Linked DNA regions of Homo sapiens: region 2 is linked to region 1. Evidence: fine-mapped expression QTL. A gene starts in region 1. The other region holds a variant in brackets. All regions are shown on one strand. Distances are from middle to middle.

Region 1 (9,974 bases):
GTAACCAATTTCATGATGTTGTTAGGAGGATTAAATGAGATAGTACCATAAGTGCCTACGCTGTAAATAGTAAAGATGTGATCTCCCATCTTCTTTCTTTACTTCTCCCCGTTGTTCAAGTCTACCTAATGTCTTTCTCTGTGAAGCCTTCCTGAACACCCAGCCCAGAGAAATCCTCTTCCTCTAAACCTCCAGCTTCTAGCACTTGTGGCTCTGAGACAGACCTTAACTTCTATCTTAAGGAGCTCCCTGTCTTTTCATGGTCATGTATCCCTGATCCTTAACATGGCTTATGTGGTGGGTGACTATATATTTGATTGTTCAAACTGGGACGCTTATGAGAATGAAAAGGGGTGCTATTAATGATTACACAGGGGAAAACCAAGACTGCCCTGGGCAAACCGTGTGTGGGGCTGCCCAACTTATAAGACATCATTCTCTTCTTTATTTAAGAAAAACATGTGTAACCCCTAATTCCAAGCCCATCCTCCACCAGCTGAAAGCACAAGCCAAACAGCCTCAGTTTTCTGACCATCAGAGAAAGAGTTCAGGGAAAATACAGCTATACTTAGCAGCATGAGGAAATCTAAGCTGCCAATGGAAAAAATACAATCTGAGGGCCACAAGTAAATAAATACAAACTTTTTTTCTTTTTTCTTTTTTTTAAAGACCCACTAGTTGGCCAGGCACGGTGGCTCACGCCTGTAATCCCAGCACTTTGGGAGGCCGAGGTGGGCCGACCACGAGGTCAAGAGATTGAGACCATCCTGGCCAACATGGTGAAACCCCGTTTCTACTAAAAATACAAAAATTAGCTGGGCATGGTGGCACATGCCTGTAGTCCCAGCTACTCGGGAGGCTGAGGCAGGAAAATCACTTGAACCTGGCAGGCGGAGGTTGCAGTGAGCCGAGATCATGCAACTGTACTCCAGCCTGGTGACAGAGCGAGACTTTGTCTCAAAAAAAAAAAAAATTAATTAATTAAAATAAATAAATGAATAAACACCCACTAGTTGAAATGACTCTCTTATCCTGATATGTTCTTTGTGGCCTCAAGAGGAGGGGGCAGGGAGGGGATTCTAGGCCTGGCAAAGTAAACCACTTCCCTTCTAAAGCTGAATATGGTATGATAACTACTCTTCAGAATAGTTAATGGGGGAGAAAAATAAACGAGACAGAAAGCCAGAGAGAGACAAACCCTCTCAGCAGAGAAAACAGGAACAATACTGATGCCAGGACTGCAAATTTCTAAGGAGAGCCAGCTCCTGATTCCTGCCTCATGCCTGAGAACTGCACACACTACATTATCCAAGGGGTCCTGGATGAACACCTAAACTGCAATGCAGCCCCACCCTGAAGCAAAGATTTCTCCCCTCAGAAGTGAAAGATGAGTCACCATAAATAGGACATTTGGTTAAATGATTTTTTTTTAATGGAACATCCTATTGTCTCTGTGGCAGAGGCTATAGAAAATTTCTGTGGTATCAAATACTAAAAATATGGTAGCAACGGGAGACTTGGCTGGATTACCAGCTGTCTTTATCCTGCACAAAGAGGAGCATTCATGATTTTCTGAAAGTTATAATTAAACTGTAGTTTAACAGAAACATTCAAACTTAAGAGTGTATCTGTCTAAATCACCTCTCTCTCTTTACACAAGAAACTTAACGGTGTCCTCTGGAGAACTGGATGGAGAGGAGAAAAGAAAAATGATCTTTATCTTTTTCATTTCATATCCCTTTGGTATTTAAATTTGTTCATGAAATACACATTTACTACTTCTATAATTTAAAGCAATCTAGGCTGGGTGTGGTGGCTCATGCCTATAATCCCAGCACTTTGGGAGACCAAGGCAGGCATATCACTTGAGGTCAGGAGTTCAAGACCAGCCTGTCCAACATGGTGACACCCTGTCTCTACTAAAAATACAAAACTTAGCCAGGCATAGTGGCGCACACTTGTAATCCCAGCTACTCAGGAGGCTGAGGCAGAAGAATCGCTTGAATTCGGGAAGTGGAGGTTGCAGTGAGCCTACTCCAGCCTGGGCGACAGAGTGAGTCTATCTCAAAAAAAAAAAAAAAAAAATTAAAGCAATTTAAATTGTTGGCATCTACCAGTATGTCTTGCCATCAGTTCCCCTGTTAACCTTCCTAGAGTCTAATTTTCTCATTTCTCCAGGCCCTGGAGAGGCTATGTGATGATGCAAGCTCTAAGACACAATCTCACCTTTCACAAGTTCACAAGTTTGAAAGGAAGATCTAGATCTTGCTCCTTGGGGGATGAATGCAGGGAGAGAAAGGTCGAGATGCCAGCAGTATTGGAAAAATCAAGTATTTTTCCAGCTTCATATTGCTGTAGAGAATATACTATTCGGGCTGGGTACAGTGGCTAACACCTGTAATTCCAACACCTTGGGAAGCCAAGCCAGGGGGATTGTTTGAGTCCAGGAGTTTGAAACCAGATTGGGCAGCATGGCGAGACCCTGTCTCTATAAAAATACAAAAAATTAGCCCTGCGTGGTGGCACTGCCTATAGTCGCAGCTTTTTCGGGAGGCTGAGGTGGGAGGATCACTTGAGCCGGGGAGGTGATCACACCATTGCACTCCAGCCAGGGCAACAGAGTGAGACCCTGGCTGAAAATAAATAAACAAATACAAAATAAAAATAGAGAATATACTACTAACCTGGGGGTCGGGGGAGGCTCTGGAGGATATATGCTGGAGAGTAGATGCATGCAAAGAAATACTATTTGGTGAGGTTTCAGGTCCAAGGGCACTTTACCAAATGGTGGAAGAGACCAGTCATTTGGGTTACTGGGGGGTAAAATCCAACTGTTTAGCACTTAGAACGGTGCCCCAAAAACTCTACATTAGTCCTCCAATAAGCGCCCTGTGGTGGACTCAGAGGTAACAAAAAGGGATTGGTTCCAAATGGCCTTATGCATTGAAATAACTCCCCAAATTTGTTTTTCACAAGGAAAATGTCTATGTAATTGGTGTTAAAATGGACCTTCTCCCCAATTCAATATGAAGACAATTCATTTATTCCAGCAGCTGAGTCTGCAGCAGGAATTAGTGACTTTCAGGATTTGTTAAAGACCAGAATCTGTCCCTCAGGGGAATTTGTAGAGTTTAAGATATCTAAAAAGGAAAGCTCAGCAAGCCATCTATCTAGGTTTCTTCAGGGCAGTATAACTCAAAGTAGAGGGGCCGGGTGACCTCCTGGAGCCTGTCTCTGGTTAGCTTTTTGCTGCTAACTGGGGATAACAGCCTAATGCCTCATGACGGCTCAGCATGGCTGGGTGAGTCCAACTGAGTCAGAGAGCACCAAAAATAAGCCACAAAGCATTGAGTAGTCATATTTATGGTTTTGATTCCAAACACACTTTGTGCTTATCCCTTCCAAGTGGAGAATTTTTATGTCATTTGTGTGCGTTAAGGCCAAAGGAGAAACCTGGAGGCAAAGGAATGCTGGTTGTGGGTCAACAAATATGCCTGATGGATTTTGTATGTTTGGCTTAAAAACACTGACTTAAAGTAAAATACTGTGACTACTTCTAACCTAGAAATGAGTTCAGCCCGCCAGACAGAAACTGCCATTCGGAGGAAATAAGGCCGTGAGCACCGGTTCCCTCCACACCCCCGAGGTTCACCTGGAGGCCAGTGGGCCAAGCGAAGCCTTGGGAGCGGAGAACTCAAAGAGGGGCGGGGAGAAAAGAATAAACACACCTCGCGGGGCTAGGCTGGCGGCGGCACAGTCCTGGTTTTTTTGATGGAACTGACCAAGATGACAGCAAGCAGAGGCTCAAATGCAGGATTCAGACCCAAGACTTCTCCCCGCTCTCAGGCGGACCCCAAAGGCGGGGAGCCAAAAACCGGGAGACTGAACAAGCAGCATTCTCACGCTCCTAAACTGGCTTCTCGCTCCTCGCTCCTCATGCCCCAAAACTGATCAGGCCCCAACCCCCCTCCCCACAACTCAGTGTTCCCTCCACACGGACCGTCGAGGCTCCCCCAGATCCCACGTCTTCGTCCTTCCTGGACCCCGTGCTCCATTCCTTACAGTCACAGACAGGGATTCGTTACCTGCAGAGCAGCTCGACAACCCTGCAGGTAGTCCTCCATGATGAAGCCCAAAGTACGCCGTCGCCCCTGGTCGAGTAGAGGTGCCCCTGGTCGAGGAGAGGTTTCCCCGACGAATGCAGCCCGCCCGGGACTCAGGGACTAGAGGCCAGAGTCAGGAGGCGGGACTCGAACCCGCCACACGGCGAATCGGCCTCCGACCCCGGGAGGAACTGCGTAAGCGGGCGCTCCGGAGTCCGGCGTCGCCCCGCCCCCAGCGGCGGAGGCGGGGCTCTACGCCCAGAGGCTCCTGGGACGTCTTTCCGGCGAGGCCAAGGGGGCGTGGCGTGGGGCGACGTGGGAAACGTAGTCCCGCAACTCCGCAATGTCCCTAGCAACCGAGGGAAGGATTGTTTTCTGAGGGATCAGTCGTTCGGTAAACAAATGTGTATGTGTCACAGTAACCCATTATTGTGGCATCTGAACTTTCCCTCTCAGATCAGGCCAAGTATAACATCTTTACATATATCACACCGAGCATCTGGTGACATTTTAAATGACACTTGGCAAAACAGATCATCTTCTTTCTACAAATTCTGCCCTTTACCAAACTGACTCAGTCGCCACCAATTTTGTGGTTGTTCATGTTAGGAGAACATTAGAATAATCTTTGACCCCTCTTGTTAACACCTACAGTCTCCTGCCAACTCCTGCTGCTTCTCCCTTTGCAACTCTGTAGCCTGTTTTTTTCTACAGCCTCGGCAAATATCTTCTTCCTTTCTTGGACGGTTGTAACCTTGGCTTTTTGCTCTCTGCCACCCTAATTGTTCCAATTGCTCTTTCAGCCTTTAGAGTTGCTTGAAATTTCATCCTGTGGCGGCCCTGTACATAGAGTTTAGGGAACCCTTCAGAATGTGGAGTTAGGTTCCAACCTCCCTTAACTGCCACTTTCCAGCCGCAGAGTAGTGCAGGTACTGCAAATAAATGGACACTCATCATCAAAAATTCCCTCATTTATTTATCTATCCCTTTATTTCCTACCGTCAGCCTCACACCAGCTTTTCCTGCTTCCCCAGCTGTAAATCGAGAGGAGGTGACTGATGAGAGGCCTGCAGTGGAACCAAGATCCAGAGCACAGGCGTGTTGGATCTCCTGCCTGCTCTGCCAGTTCTTTTCTTCTTCTTCTTCTTTTTGAGACGGAGTCTTGCTCCGTCTTCAGGCTGGAGTGCAGTGGCAGGATCTTGGCTCACTGCAACCTCCACCTCCCGGGTTCAAGCGATTCTCCTGCCTCAGCCTCCCGAGTAGCTGGGACTACAGGCATGTGCCACCATGCCCTGCTAATTTTTGTATTTTTAGTAGAGATGGGGTTTCACTATGTTGGCCAGGTTGGTCTTGATCTCTTGACCTTGTGATCCGCCCGCCTTGGCTTCCCAAAGTGCTGGGATTACAGGCGTCAGCCATCGCGCCCAGAGCCTGGGGCTTCTACCACACCCTCTGCACTCTACCAGGTGCACAACCCAACCAGTTTCATTTCTAGACTTAAAAATGATACAGCAAGGACTTGGAAAGGAGCTCTCTGGAGGGCTCCAGAGGGAAAAGAGCTGGGTTTGTTTGTTTGTTTTTAACATTAATTGAGTAATACATGCAAATATCGTGCTCTTTGCTCCTGCTTCTGTGGATCCAGAGCAAAGGACTGCCATACCCAGAGAGAGAGCCCAGATCCAACAAGCTGCTTCTGTCCAGCCCTTCTCCTCCCTACTTAGCAAGGGCACTTGCTCTTCCCTATTCTCACCAGAGAGGCACAAGCGCTCCGTCCCTTCTAGAGGCAGGCAGAGGGAAGAGAAAGGGTCTGTTGTTTTTCTCTCCTGTTTCTCGCTCCCTCTCTGCTGATCACAAAGCTGCTGACCGGGTCAGAAAGTCCTGATGGAAATCCACCAGCGCTGGGCAGGCCCCTCCTCCTCCAGGGAGCTTGTCCTTGCCTAATTTTTCTTCGTCCTGATGAGAACAAAAAAGAGAGAGAGAAGAAAAGAAAAACCACAAACTTCCTTTGAAAACCAGCTTGTAGTCAGGGCCCGGAGCGCATGCCATAGACTCGGCGACTCAGGAATCCTGAAGACTCTCTGAGCGACCTGGAGCACCTTGGCTGTGTCCCTGCCTGCCTTCACCCTCCTCCAGTGCCCCCAGTACTGGGCGTGAGTCCGGAAGTGGCCACAACCCAGCCTGGACCGTCGCTTATAAAGCTGTGTAAACCTGTATAAGCTCAGGCGTTGACAGCTGGAAGGCAGCTGGCACTGGCAGCCCCCTTCATTGCACCTATCTCCCCCATCTCATTGCCACGGCTGAACCCTCCTTCTCAATCTTGGAACAGCACCCCCTTCTTTAAGGTAAAAACTTTATTTTAATCATCTTCTTCACCTCTTCTCCCACCCTTCTCTATTTCCTCTCCAGCTTTGGGGAGCTGACACCTGCTGTCCTTCCACCTTTGGTCTGCAAGTCTGGATTGCTTAGAGGAGCTAAGTCAGGAGAGACATGTAAAGGGGATGCTGCTTGGTCCTCCTCCTTTTAATGAAAGCACGAAACCTTCCCCCTCTCCTTGTGAGCAAGTATACAGGGCACTGTGGCCATGGTTGACATATTCTGAGATGAAAATCTAAACTATTGATTGCACAAAGACATAGGTCAGACTAAGAAGGAGATTGGTGTGAGACAGTAAGGGAACTGTTCCTACAGAGAAGGAGTGTCTTCTTGAAGCTACATACCTGTTTTACGTGCTTCTTCCAACTTTCGGCTCTCTACTGCCATTGATTAGGGAGGAGCCAGGATTATTTTAACTCCCTCACTCACCACCATAATTCCAGCTGGAGAGAAAGTGTAGGATTTGACGAGCTAAGAAAGAGGAGGAAAAGAATGAAACTTTGATTTATCTGACTATCCTCTCCCTCATTCTTTCCTACTCTGAAATACTCCATGCCCTCCCCAGCAGGATTGGACGTTGTAGAGTAGAAAGCCTCCATTACATTTCCTGCCCCTGCCTCTTAAGACTTAGCCCATTTAGCTCTGCCCAGTTCCTCTGAGACCCCACTCCCTCAGGTGTCCACTCCTGGGTTCCTTTGGCTCACCTCTCCAGCCAGCTAGCTGCCCAACCCCCACTTCATCATTGATCATTTCTGGCACTGGAGAGAAAATATAAAAAATAAGGCCTGCTTTTCTTTTTTTTTTTTCTTTTTTTCTTTTTTTTTTTGGAGGCAAGAGTCTCACTCTTGTCACCCAGGCTGGAGTGCAGAGGCACAATCTTGGCTTACTGCAACCTCCACCTCCGGGGTTCAAGCAATTCTCCTGCCTCAGCCTCCTGAGTAGCTGGGATTACAGGTGCCCGCCACCGTGCCCGGCTAATTTTTGTATTTTTAGTAGAGATGGGGTTTCGCCATGTTAGCCAGGCCGATCTTGAGCTCCTGACCTCAGGTGATCCGCCCGCCTCGGCCTCTCAAAGTGCTGGGATACAGGTGTGAGGCACTGTGCCCGGCCAAGGCCTGCTTTTCTTCAAGCTTTTTCACTTTTCCAGGCTCTGGCATCTGCTTTGAGGTTCACCCTAAGTGTCATTTAAGGGGAGAAGGAAAGGAGAGAGAGAAAGAGAGAGAAAAAAAAGCATAAGGCCTGCAGGCAATTTTTGCTACTCTGATTCTAAATTAACAACACGTAAATGATATGCAGCTAGCATAAACATATGTGAATCAAGAGGATAATCAATTTGAGTGACTAGGCTTATTTTGTTTCAGTAACTTTAATGTTCCTCAACCTCATCTCCCAGGCCTTCCCCTAGCCCCAAATTCCTGTAGGTTTACAAGAAGGAAGCAGTCTCAGGCTGGGAGGAGGGTGGAGAAAAGACAAGATTTCTAACTAGTTTAATTTATTTTATTTTATTTTATTTTATTTTATTTTATTTTATTTTATTTTATTTTATTTTTGAGATGGAGTTTCGCTCTGTCACCCAGGCTGTAGTGCAGTGTCACCATCTCAGCTCACTGCAACCCCCTGCCTCCCAGGTTCAAGCAATTCTCCCACCTCAGCCTCCCGAGCAGCTGTGACTACAGGCACGTGCCAACACACCTGGCTAATTTTTGTACTTTCAATACAGACAGCGTTTTGCCATGTTAGCCAGGATGGTCTCGATCTCCTGACCTCAAGTAATCTGCCCGCCTCAGCCTCTCAAAGTGCTGGGATTACAGGCGTGAGCCACCGCGCCTGGCCCCTAACTAGTTTAATTTCTCCCTGTTTCTCTCCCTGATAAAGAGTGGGAGGGGAGCAAGGAGATTGAAGGGAGATGTTTTCCAAAGGGCAGGATTTGTGGTTTTTTATTATTTATACCCACAGTATTAGTTAAATGTCTATCTGTGCTTGCCTCAATGTGCCTCCAGTGCTGATAGAGAACAGGTTAAACAGGTCCGGTGTTCACATCTAAAATGACCTGGAGAGGACTGGGCACGGTGGCTCATGCCTGTAATCCCAGCACTTTGGGAGGCCAAGGTGGGAGGATCACCTGAGGTCGGAAGTTCAAGACCAGCCTGACCAACATGGAGAAACTCCATCTCTACTAAAAAATACAAAATTAGCTGGGCATGGTGTTGCATGCCTGTAATCCCAGCTACTCGGGAGGCTGAGGCAGGAGAATCACTTGAACCCAGGAGGCAGAGGTTGCAGTGAGCCGAGGTCGCACCATTGCACTCCAACCTAGGCAACAAGAGCAAAACTCTGTCTCAAAAAAATAAAAATAAATAAATAAAACCACTTGGATGGGAATAGACATAAAACTTTAGGTAGGTGAATGTACAGGAAGTATTGTTATGTAAATTAATAATCAGCATTTTCATATTTCATAGAAATAGCAGGCAAGAGAGTACCTCTGGGTTTAGGTAGTTTCTGGGGAAAAAAAATGAACTGAGGAAAAGTTGCTGTCTCAATGCTAGCTGTCAAGAGATGCTTACTGGGTCCAGGCACCGTGGCTCATGCCTGTAATCCCAGTCCTTTGGCAGGCTGAGGAGGGCGGATTGCTTGGGCCCCCAGGAGTTAAGACCAGCCTAGGCAACAAAGCAAGACCCTGTCTCAGTTTAATTAAAAGAAATTTGATATCTTTATTAATTTTTTTTAAAGAGAAGCTTACTGGAAGAACTTGTGGGGAGTGCTTTTTGTGCCCCTAATCTGAAGTTATTTATCAAAACCAGTCTCTGATTCCAGCCCCCACCACCTACATTTCCCCTCCCAGCTTACAGGAAACCCCTCCCAAGGCCTTTATACTGTGGTTTGGGATTGTGTAAGGTTCAGTAGAGCCCTTTGAGGTGGAAGACTTCCCCTTCCTCACCAGCATTTCACCTTTAGGGGCATGAAACTGACTCTCTGTGCCTCCTCCATTCTTCACCCCAAGTACTATGTGACTTAATCTTTTTATCCTTGGGTGAGGCAGAGAGAAGGTATCCCTAAACATACAAGCACTGTGTATTCTTAGTATGTTGTGTGAAGGGGCAGGGTGTGGGGTAGGGCAGAGGAATTATCTCTGTCATGGCTATGAGGGGGTTACTGATGTGATGCCTATTAGAGTAAGCTAAAGATCATCATATTAATAACCATTAGCGTAGATTTAACATTTCTTTCTCCACCTCTTATCCTTCTTTCTCCTTTGTGCTCTCCCTTTCTCTCTGTCTTTCCTCCCTTCCCTGTCATGATCTGTTTCAGGGAAGCTGACTCCACCCATGTGTTCAATCCCACCAGTCTTCCCTCCCAAGTCTGGAAGCCCCACGACCTCTTGGTCTCATCTGGTCACAGCAAGTTAGAGGTGGAAAGAGCTCAGCACGGGGCCCTTCTGTTTACACATATACTGCCCATAGCCAGGAGTTACTGCACAAACACTAGCCAGCCTTC
Region 2 (9,974 bases), 23 kb before region 1:
GCCTGTTGCTCCTTATTCCCAAAAAGAGTCAACAGAAAGAAGACATTAAGTATAGTAGGAAGAAGGGGGATCAATTTTGAGGAGACTGAAACAACTATCACAGAGAAAGGCCTGAATACACTTGTAAAAAAAGACAGTAAGACCCCCAAACAGGAAAAAATTATTTAATAGTATAACAAAATGCAAAATAAAGTACCCAAGTTACAAAACATAAATTCCTTTGGTTCATGATCACACCACTATTTTTACCTTCCACATAGCTACAGACATCACACCCTCAAAGTGAAGTCAAACTGTCCCCCTCATACTGAAGATGTCATGCCAAAACCATCACATACCCCACTGTTCAGTGAAACTGTTGGCAACTTACATGGAACAGAGCTGTGGGGTAGGAAAAAGGGGAAAGGGTTGCGTTAAAAAAAATGGGGAGACTCTACACATGCAGAACAAGTTAGTGGGAGGGAGTGCTCTGCTGGGTCAACACGCCATGAACCACACCCCTATTCGTGCTACATGAGGCTGAGTCCTTGCTACAACCACACAGAAATACAGACAATCAAGTGAACCTGAGCACCCCCAGGGATAACAGAAGAAAAATACAGAGAAGCAGAGGAGAGAAAGAATGGCAGCAAGAGGCAGATCACAGAATACCAGGGAACACCTAGTCCAAACCCTGTTTTACAGATGGGGAAAGTGAGACCTGGAGTAGTGAAGTGTCTTGCCAAAATACATAGTTTATGGGAGCATTAGAACTCCATGCTTCCTTTTAATGTGAGCAAGGAAAAAAAGAGATTGACAAGAAATTGATAGGCCTGCTAAGGCAGGAGACAGACCCAGGCCTCTCATTCCAGTTCTGTTGTCTTTTTGGAAGAGTGCCTATGAGGTCATTAAGGCCTTTCTGGGTGTTTTCTTGATTCTCAAGAGTCAGGGTTCTGGGTGGCTCTGGGACAGAGGGATCCAAAGAAACAGCCAGGCCACCTGATCAGGACAGAAGACAATGGCCTCTAATCTGTTCCCAAACTAGATCTGAAACAGTCACAATAAGCTAAGAATAGAAATTCAGCCATCTCTGAATCAAACACCATCACCTAAATGGTGGCAGAAAGAAAAGTCACCGAGCTGATAATCTGCTGTAGGCTGAAAACTGGAATAAATTTCCAAAGCGCACTCTCTTTTCTCTCTAGCTTGAGGCAGGTATTCAATAAATACTTGAATGAACAAGTGAATAAATGAATACATGGAGACCATCGATGAATGTTCAGTTCCATGACAGATACTGGTTCTGTTCAAGATCCATGCCGAGGACACTTTTGGGGTCTAAATTCTTTTTGTCCCACTGTGCTGGGACTGCAGATATGTCACATCGTGCCCCTGGCAAATAAAATAGAGAGAGGTGCAGATTTAAATAATAAAATGTGTCTGATTGGTAGAGATTAGGGGGAAAAGGTGGAAAACCATTCTTAAAGCAGCTGCTTTCTTTCACTTTTTTTCTCCTCTCAGTTTTATGAGAACAGTATACCAGATCCTGGAGCAATGAAGACAGAATTGCTGAATCTCCAAACATCTCAAAACATGCATTTGAAGTGAGTCAGGTAGCCTCACCCACTACCTCCTCGCCTCTCAACAGTCACTTCTTGGACAGGGAGGCTGTGGTAGACTGTGACAGTGAGATCTGACTGCACTTCTCGAAGACGGCCTCAGCAGAGAGTTTAGGCAGCCCCTGATCTAGAGGGCACTCATCCACCAAGCTGTTCATGGGCGTCGGGGGCAGCGGAGGGTCCTCCTCATCTTGACTCAGGCCAGAAATCAGGGAGTTACTTGCCCTGTCCAATTCCTTGTCCACTTGCTCCCTGGACACATCTGCTGTCTCAGGCTGTCCTGAAGGGATCTTCATGGAGTCAAAATATGCTGACAGGGCTTCCTGGAGCAGGGGCAGAAGTTTCTTTCGAGAGACCTGGGTGTTGCCTTGAAGATAGGCATGGAGGTTAGGGTGGGTACTTGAGGCAGGGGTCAGCTTCAGGGGTGGAGAGTGGGAGCGTTCCAGGACTTCACAGATCTAAAGAGGAGACAATAACAGGGAAATGATACACAACTTGCTGTAGCAAAGTGCTGGGCTTCTAAGTGAGAGGCTTCCTCTATAGAAGAGGAAGCTTTTAAAAAGTAAGTCGGCCGGGCGGGGTGCGGTGGCTCACGCTTGCAATCCCAGCACTTTGGGAGGCCGAGGCGGGTGGATCATGAGGTCAGGAGATTGAGACCATCCTGGCTAACACAGTGAAACCCCGTCTCTACTAAAAATACAAAAAATTAGCCGGGCATGGTGGCGGGTGCCTGTAGTCCCAGCTACTCGGGAGGCTGAGGCAGGAGAATGGCGTGAACCCAGGAGGCGGAGCTTGCAGTGAGCGGAGATCGCGCCACTGCACTCCAGCCTGGGCGACAGAGCAACACTGCATCTCAAAAAAAAAAAAAAAAAGTAAGTCAGCCGGGCGCGGTGGCTCACGCCTGTAATCCCAGCACTTTGGGAGGCTAAAGGGGGCCGATCACCTGAGGTCGGGAGTTTGAGACCAGCCTGACCATCATGGAGAAACCCCATCTCTACTAAAAATACAAAATTAGCCAGGCATGATGGCGCATGCCTGTAATCCCAGCTACTTGGGAGGCTGAGGCAGGAGAATCACTTGAACCCAGGAGACAGAAGTTGCAGTGAGCCAAGATGGTGCCACTGCACTCCAGCCTGGGCAACAAGAGCGAAACTCCGTCTCAAAAAAAAAAAAAAGTAAGTTATCCTTGAGGCCGGGCACAGTGGCTCACGCCTGTAATCCCAGCACTTTGGGAGGCCAAGGTGGGCGGATCACCTGAGGTCAGGAATTCGAGAACAGCCTTGTCAACATGCTGAAACCCCATCTCTACGAAAAATACAAAAATTAGCCAGACATGGTGGTTCACACCTGTAATCCCAGCTACTTGGGAGGCTGAGATAGGAGAATCATTTGAACCTGGGAGGCGGAGGTTGCAGTGAGCCGAGATCTCACCATTGCACTCCAGCCTGGGCAATAAAGCAAGACAAGAAAAAAAGTAAGTTGTCCAGAGTTCGGTTTTATTGTTTGCAACAGAAGGAACACTAATATACACAGTATTTTTTTTTTTTTTTGAGACAGAGTCTTGCTCTGTCGCCCAGGCTGGAGTGCAGTGGTGCAATCTCAGTTCAGTACAACCTCTGCCTCCCCGGTTCAAGTGAATCTCCTGCCTCAGCCTCCCATGTAGCTGGGACTACAGGCATGTGTCACCCAGCCTGGCTAATGTTTGTATTTTTAGTGGAGACGGGGTTACACCATGTTAGCCAGGCTGGTCTCGAACTCCTGCCCTCAGGTCATCCGCTCTCGCCTCGGCCTCCCAAAGTGCTAGGATTACAGGTGTGAGCCACCAAGCCTGGCCCACAGTATTTTATTTTAGTATTTTGTATTTTTTATTTAATAGACTAGGGATGGGGTCTTGCTATGTTGCCCAGGCTGGTCTCCAAATCCTGGTCTCAAGCAATCCTCCTGCTTCAGCCTCCGAAAGTGCTGGGATTCATACACAGTGTTTTATTTATTTTATTTTACTTTAATTTTTTTTTTTTTGAAATGGATTCTTGCTCTGTTACCCAGGCTGGAGTACAGTGGCACGATCTTAGCTCACTGCAACCTTCGCCTCCCAGATTCAAGCAATTCTCTTGCTTCAGCCTCCTGAGTAGCTGGGATTACAGGCACCTGCCATCATGCCCAGCTAATTTTTGTATTTTTAGTAGAGACGGGGTTTCGCCATATTGGCCAGGCTGGTCTCAAACTCCTGAGCTCAGGTGATCTGCCCAGCTCAGCCTCCCAAAGTTCTGGGATTACAGGCATGAGCTACCATACCCAGCCATACACAGTATTTTAAAAACAGAGGAAACAGTTTAGATTGTATATTTCATTTTATTATTAAAGTAACTAAAGCGAAGTAAGATGGTTGTGAGTAAAATCATGCAGATGATGGCAGTTAAACCAGAACCGAGGAACCCCAGCTTCTAATCTAGTGTCGTTTCCAAGTGTATAAATGTGCTCAAGAACTTGAACTAGGATGGAACTAGAATTTATCTAGAGGCCAGAAGAGGGATGGAGGAAGAAAGAATGAATTGAACAAAATAAGACTGGTATCACTATTACCCTCACTTACATGCAGGGAAACTGAGGCTTCAATGATCAGGTAACTTGCCTAAGGTCATAATTTGCATGAAGCAAAACTGACACTGAGCCCAGAGCTGTCACCAAAGCCAGTGTTCTAAATCAATATATTATACTACCCCTAACATAGGAGAA[A/G]GAGAGGAGATGGTAGAGTAGACTGTAAGAAAAGGACTCCTGGCTGGGCATAGTGGCCCACACCTGCAATTCCAGAACTCTGGGAAGCTGAGGCTGGTGGATCACTTGAGTCCAGGAGTTCGAGACCAGCCTGGGCAACATAGCGAGACTCTGTCCCTACAAAAAATACAAAAAAAATTAGCTAGCCATGGTGGTGTGCCTGTAGCCGCAGCTACTTGGGAGGCTGGGAGGATTGCTTGAACCCGGGAGGCAGAGGTTGCAGTGAGCTGAGATAGTGCCATTGTACCACTCCAGCCTGGTCAACAGAGTGAGACATCTCAAAAAAAAAAAAAAACACACACACACACACACAAAAACAAAACAGAGAGAGAAGGACTCCTGTTTCCAAGCATAGGGGCAACCTAGACAATGGTAGAGTCATTAGAAATCCACACAGCTTTAAAAGAGCAGCACAGAGGGGAGAAGATTCAGGAACGTGGAAGAGGTACTTCTAATGGCCAAAGCACCCTTTTCTTACTGACAGGATTAGTAAGAGCCACTATTTACAAAGTGCTTACTCTGCTCCAGGAGTGTGCTTTACACATGATATTACGTTTAATGATCATAGCAGAATTAGCAGTAGGTACTATTATGCCATTTCCAGATGCAGAAGTCAACTGACTTGCCTTAGCTCAAAGAGTGAGTAAGAGGCAAACCTAGAACAGAAAAGCACATCTACCTGACTTTAAAAACTGCAGTTCTTGGCCAGGTGCAGTGGCTCAGGCTTGTAATTCCAGCACTTCGGAAGGCCAAGGCAGGTGGATCACTTGAGGTCAGGAGTTCGAGACCTGCCTGGCTAACATGGTGAAACCCCATCTCTACTAAAAATACAAAAATTAGTCAGGCATGGTGGCAGGCGCCTGTAGTCCCAGCTACAGGCTGAGGTGGGAGAACTGACTGAACCTGGGAGGTGGCGGTTGCAGTGAGCCAAGATCACACCACTGTACTCAAGCCTGGGCGACAGAGTGAGACTCCATCTTAAAAAACAAACAAACAGACAAAACTGCAGTTCTTTTCATAATGACGAACTACCTTACACTGAATGAAATCAGATTTGCTTCCTGGGGAGAAGGCAAAGGCAAAGGGGGGCGGGAAAGGACAGACATACCTTCTATGAGAGCAAAGGATTATCTGGCTGTATTCTGTCTTTAGCAGTCCTCACAGAGCCTAGGCAACCCTCAGAATCCCTGAACTGCCTTAAGCCCACCTTTTTTTTTTTTTTTTTTGGAGACGGAGTCTTGCTCTGTTGGCAGGATGGAGTACAGTGGCGCAATCTCGGCTCACTGCAACCTCTGCTTGCCGAGGTTCAAGAGATTCTCCTGCCTCAGCCTCCTGAGTAGCTGGGACTATAGGCACGCACCACCACGCCCAGCTAATTTCCGTATTTTTAAAAGAGATGGGGTTTCACCATGTTGGCCAGGATGGTCTTGATCTCTTGCTCTCGTGATCTGCCCGCCTCAGCTTCCCAAAGTGCTGGGATTACAGGTGTGAGCCACCGCACCCAGCCTTAAGCCCACTTTTAAATTCTTCCCTAGGCTAATCAGTAACCAGCAGAGGAACAGAAGGGGGAGGAAGTAGGAAAGATAGCCAAATCTGGATCTAGATCACTTCTTTACAGAGTTTGCACTATACAGAATAATTAATCCCTGCATAGTAAGTAGCAGAAAAGGTCTCTCGTATTTCTAATTTTCAAGGCAACAGCATAATTCCAGGGGTGAGGAATTAATGATTAAACCAAGAATAGAGTTTTTGTTTTTTTTTTTCCCCAACAGAGATGAGGTCTTGCTATCTTTGCCCAGGCTGGACTCAAACTTTCCAGCTCGGCTGGGCGCGGTGGCTCACGCCTGTAATCCCAGCACTTTGGGAGGCCAAGGCGGGCGGATCACGAGGTCAGGAGATCGAGACTATCCTGGCTAACACGGTGAAACCCCGTCTCTACTAAAAATACAAAAAATTAGCCGGGCGTGGTGGCGGGCGCCTGTAGTCCCAGCTACTCGGGAGGCTGAGGCAGGACAATGGCGTTAACCCAGGAGGCAGAGCTTGCAGTGAGCCGAGATTGTGCCACTGCACCCCAGCCTGGGCAACAGCACAAGACTGTCTCAAAAAAAAAAAAAAAAAAAAAACTTTCCAGCTTAAGCAATCCTTCTGCATCAGCCTCCCGAGTTGCTGGGACTACAGGCACGTGCCACTGTCCCTAGCTCAAGAAGGGAATTTTAACTCCGGATTTATAACATTTCCTTCTAACTAGATTTCGTTCTTTCAAAGTAGGAATTGAATCTCTAGTTCTCTTTGGAATTCCCCCTTTCTCAACAATGCTATGATTAAGGATGTTCATTAAAAAAAAAAAAAGGATATTCATATAGAGAGAGAATGGGAAAAAGCAGAAAGGGGAGGAAACAGGTCCAGAAACAGGTCAAGGGACCTCATGTAAGTACATTAATATAAGAACCTAAGAGAGGTCCTTATAGGACAGCTGTAGAGCACAGAGGTACATACAGGCAGACTCTGTAAGGCTCTTAGGTTGGAGAAGGGACACAGACTCACCGTTGTTTGGAGTGCCACATGGGGACAGAAAATAGCCAACTGCCGCACTGGCTCATTGTGAGTGTTGAAAAAGATAGTCATGGCAACCAGGACATCATAGCTGTGAGCCTGGCAGAAAGCATGGAGATCTGCAAGGAGGTTAGACCTCTGCAGAAAGGCCTGAAAGGGAAGAAACGGAGAGGGATGAAGGACTTTCTCATCATCATCAATAAAACATCCTTGGGCCGGGCACGGTCGCTTACGCCTATAATCCTAGCACTTTGGGAGGCCGAGGCAGGTGATCACTTGAGGTCAGGAGTTCGAGACCAGCCTAGCCAACATGGTGAAACCCTGTCTCTGGTAAAAATACAAAAATTAGCCGGGCATGGGGGCATATGCCTGTAATCCCAGCTACTCAGGAGGCTGAGGCAGGAGAATCGCTTGAACCAGGGAGGCGGAAGTTGCAGTGAGCTGAGATTGCGCCATTGCACTCCAGCCTGGGGGACAAGAGCGAAACTCCGTCTCAAAAAACAAAAACAAAACAAAACAAAACAAAAAATTAGCTGGGCATGCCGGCACGCACCAGTAATCCCAGCTACTAGGGAGGCTGAGGCAGGAGAATTACTTGAACCCGGGAGGCAGAGGTTGCAGTGAGCTGAGATCATGCCATTCCACTCCATCCTGGGCAACAGAATAAGACTCAGGCTCAAAACAAACAAACAAACAAACATACATACATAACTGCTAGAGGTTTTTTGAGCATAGGAGATAGTACTTCAGTTAGGGTGGTCAGGAAAAACCTCCCAAAACAAGAGACATCTGAGCTGAGTACCTGAATGTTAAGAAGGAGCCAGCTTTACAAAGAAAAAAGCTCAGCTGGGAATGAGCTTAATGGTTCTGAGGAACAGAAAAGAAACCAGTGTGGCTGCAGTACTGTAGAACAGGAGTGGAGCTGGAATGAGATGAGGCCAGAGAAAAAGACAAGGGCCAGATCAAGCATGGCGCTGTAAACCACAGTAAGTCCTTTAGATTTTATTAAAAATACAATGAGGCCGGGCACAGTGGCTCACGCCTATAATCCCAGAACTTCGGAGGCCAAAAGGAGAACTGCTTGAGGCCAGGAGTTTGAGACCAGCCTGGGCAACATAGTGAGACCCCATCGACACATACATACACGCGCGCGCACACACACACACACACACACACACACACACACACTAGTTAGGTGTGGTGGTGTGCACCTGTGGACCCAGCTACTCGAGAGGCTAAGGTGGGAGGATTGCTTGAGCCTGGAAGGTTGAGGCTGCAGTGAGCCATGATGGTACCACTGTACTCTAGCCTGGCAACAAAGCATGACTCCCTTAAAAAAAAAAAAAAAAAATTAAAAAAGACCACTCTGGCTGCTGCGGGGAGAATGGTTTGTAGGGCTGCAAAAGCAGAGGCAGGGACACCAGTACTGAGGCTAATACAGCGGTGCAGTGAGAGATGCTGGACTCTGGTGGTCACAGTGGAGGTAGAGACAAAGATAGACACAAGATACATTTTGGAGGTGAGCCAGGAATGAGGTGCAAGGCCACATGCATAACATGCATAGCTAAAGGCTTTCTCTCCCCACCCACAGCCACAACTTGCTCTTACCTCCAAATCCATATATATTGCACTAATGGCCACCTTGACGCCTTGTCTATAGATAGTCTTCTGGTCTTTTCTCAGCATCTGCTCAGTGGTCAGTCCTAGAAAGCAGATGAGAGACTAGGGGTCAAACAGGGTAGGCCAGGGTCCCAAGACCAAGAAGGCAAGGACAGCCAGATGGGTCAAGGAAGGAAAAACAGCCTCTCTTTGGGGCAATGAATGGGGGAGATAATTGAAAATGTAATCATAGCCGGGCGCGGTGACTCAGGCCTGTAATCCCAGCACTTTGGGAGGCTGAGGTGGGCGGATCACCTGAGGTCAGGAGTTTGGGACCAGCCTGGTCAACATGATGAAACTCTGTCTCTACTAAAAATACAAAGAATTAGCTGGGTGTGGTGGCGGGCACTTGTAATCCCAGCTACTCAGGAGGCTGAAGCAGGAGAATCACTTGAACCTGGACTCTGTCTCAAAAAAAAAAAAAAAAAAGAAAGAAAGAAAATGTAATCACATAATCAAAAGCCATCTTAAATAACTGGTGACAATAGGTACCTTTAGAGCAAGTAACTTTGGAGAGAAGGATGAAACCCAGAACAGAGGCTTTTACTTTTTATCTTTCCCTCTTCCTATACTGTTTACATGTGAGTTCTTTCTTTCTTTCTTCCTTTTTATGTCAACAGGTGGTAGCTGAGTACAAGAATACAGTTTTTTTTGGGTTCTCTTCATCTTTTGTTTACTCACAAAATATTTCTTTTGCCTCCCTAACCAATTCTATAGATTTCACTCTGATAATTTAGTATACTCTCAGCATATTTTATATATATGTCCTGTATTCTCTGAATAGACTGGAACCTATGAGGCTCTTTTTGTTTTTTTTTGAGACGGAGTTTCGCTGTCGTTGCCCAAGCTGGAGTACAATGGCGCAATCTCGGCTCACTGCAACCTCCACTTCCCGGGTTCAAGCGATTTTCCTGCCTCAGCCTCCTGAGTAGATGGGATTACAGGCACACACCACCACGCTCAGCTAATTTTTCGTATTTTTAGTAGAAACGGAGTTTCACCATGTTAGCTAGGCTGGTCTTGAACTCCTGACCTCAGGTGATCTGCCCACCTCGGCCTCCCAAAGTGTTGGGATTACAGGCGTGAGCCACTGCGTCTGGCCCTTCTGAGGCTCTTAATACATTCCTCCTCATCCTAACCAAGAGCCAGGATAGAACAATCCAGTAAATGACTGATTATTTCATGCTTAGGCTAATATGGTACTTCATTTCTTTCTGGTATAAAATTTAAATAATTGGCCAGGCGCGGTGGCTCATGCCTGTAATCCCAGCACTTTGGGAGGCCCAGGCGGGCAGATCACCTGAGCTTCAGAGTTCAAGACCAGCCTGGTCAACATGGTGAAACCCGATCTTTACTAAAAATACCAAAATTAGCTGGGCGTGGTGGTGG

What was found.
Region 2: its variant is fine-mapped to the expression of PRUNE1 in whole blood (INTERVAL, PIP above 0.99).

Annotation. Positions count from the first base shown.
Region 1 is chr1:151,002,783-151,012,756 of GRCh38, reverse strand. PRUNE1 (prune exopolyphosphatase 1) reads right to left here and starts at 4,308. Exons shown (of 8, transcript NM_021222.3): 1 at 4,086-4,308. The coding sequence starts at 4,124. MINDY1 (MINDY lysine 48 deubiquitinase 1) reads left to right here and starts at 5,855. Exons shown (of 10, transcript NM_001376665.1): 1 at 5,855-6,445. RefSeq lists enhancers at 3,669-3,718, 3,374-3,914, 3,915-4,457, 5,950-6,129, 6,360-6,619.
Region 2 is chr1:151,025,888-151,035,861 of GRCh38, reverse strand. It overlaps PRUNE1 (prune exopolyphosphatase 1), which reads right to left. Exons shown (of 8, transcript NM_021222.3): 6 at 8,535-8,629; 7 at 6,918-7,076; 8 at 149-2,056. The coding sequence ends at 1,628. Among named protein-coding and RNA genes, the nearest start is that of BNIPL, 5.7 kb to the left of the region's middle. The variant A/G (reference allele first, on the strand shown) is at 4,335.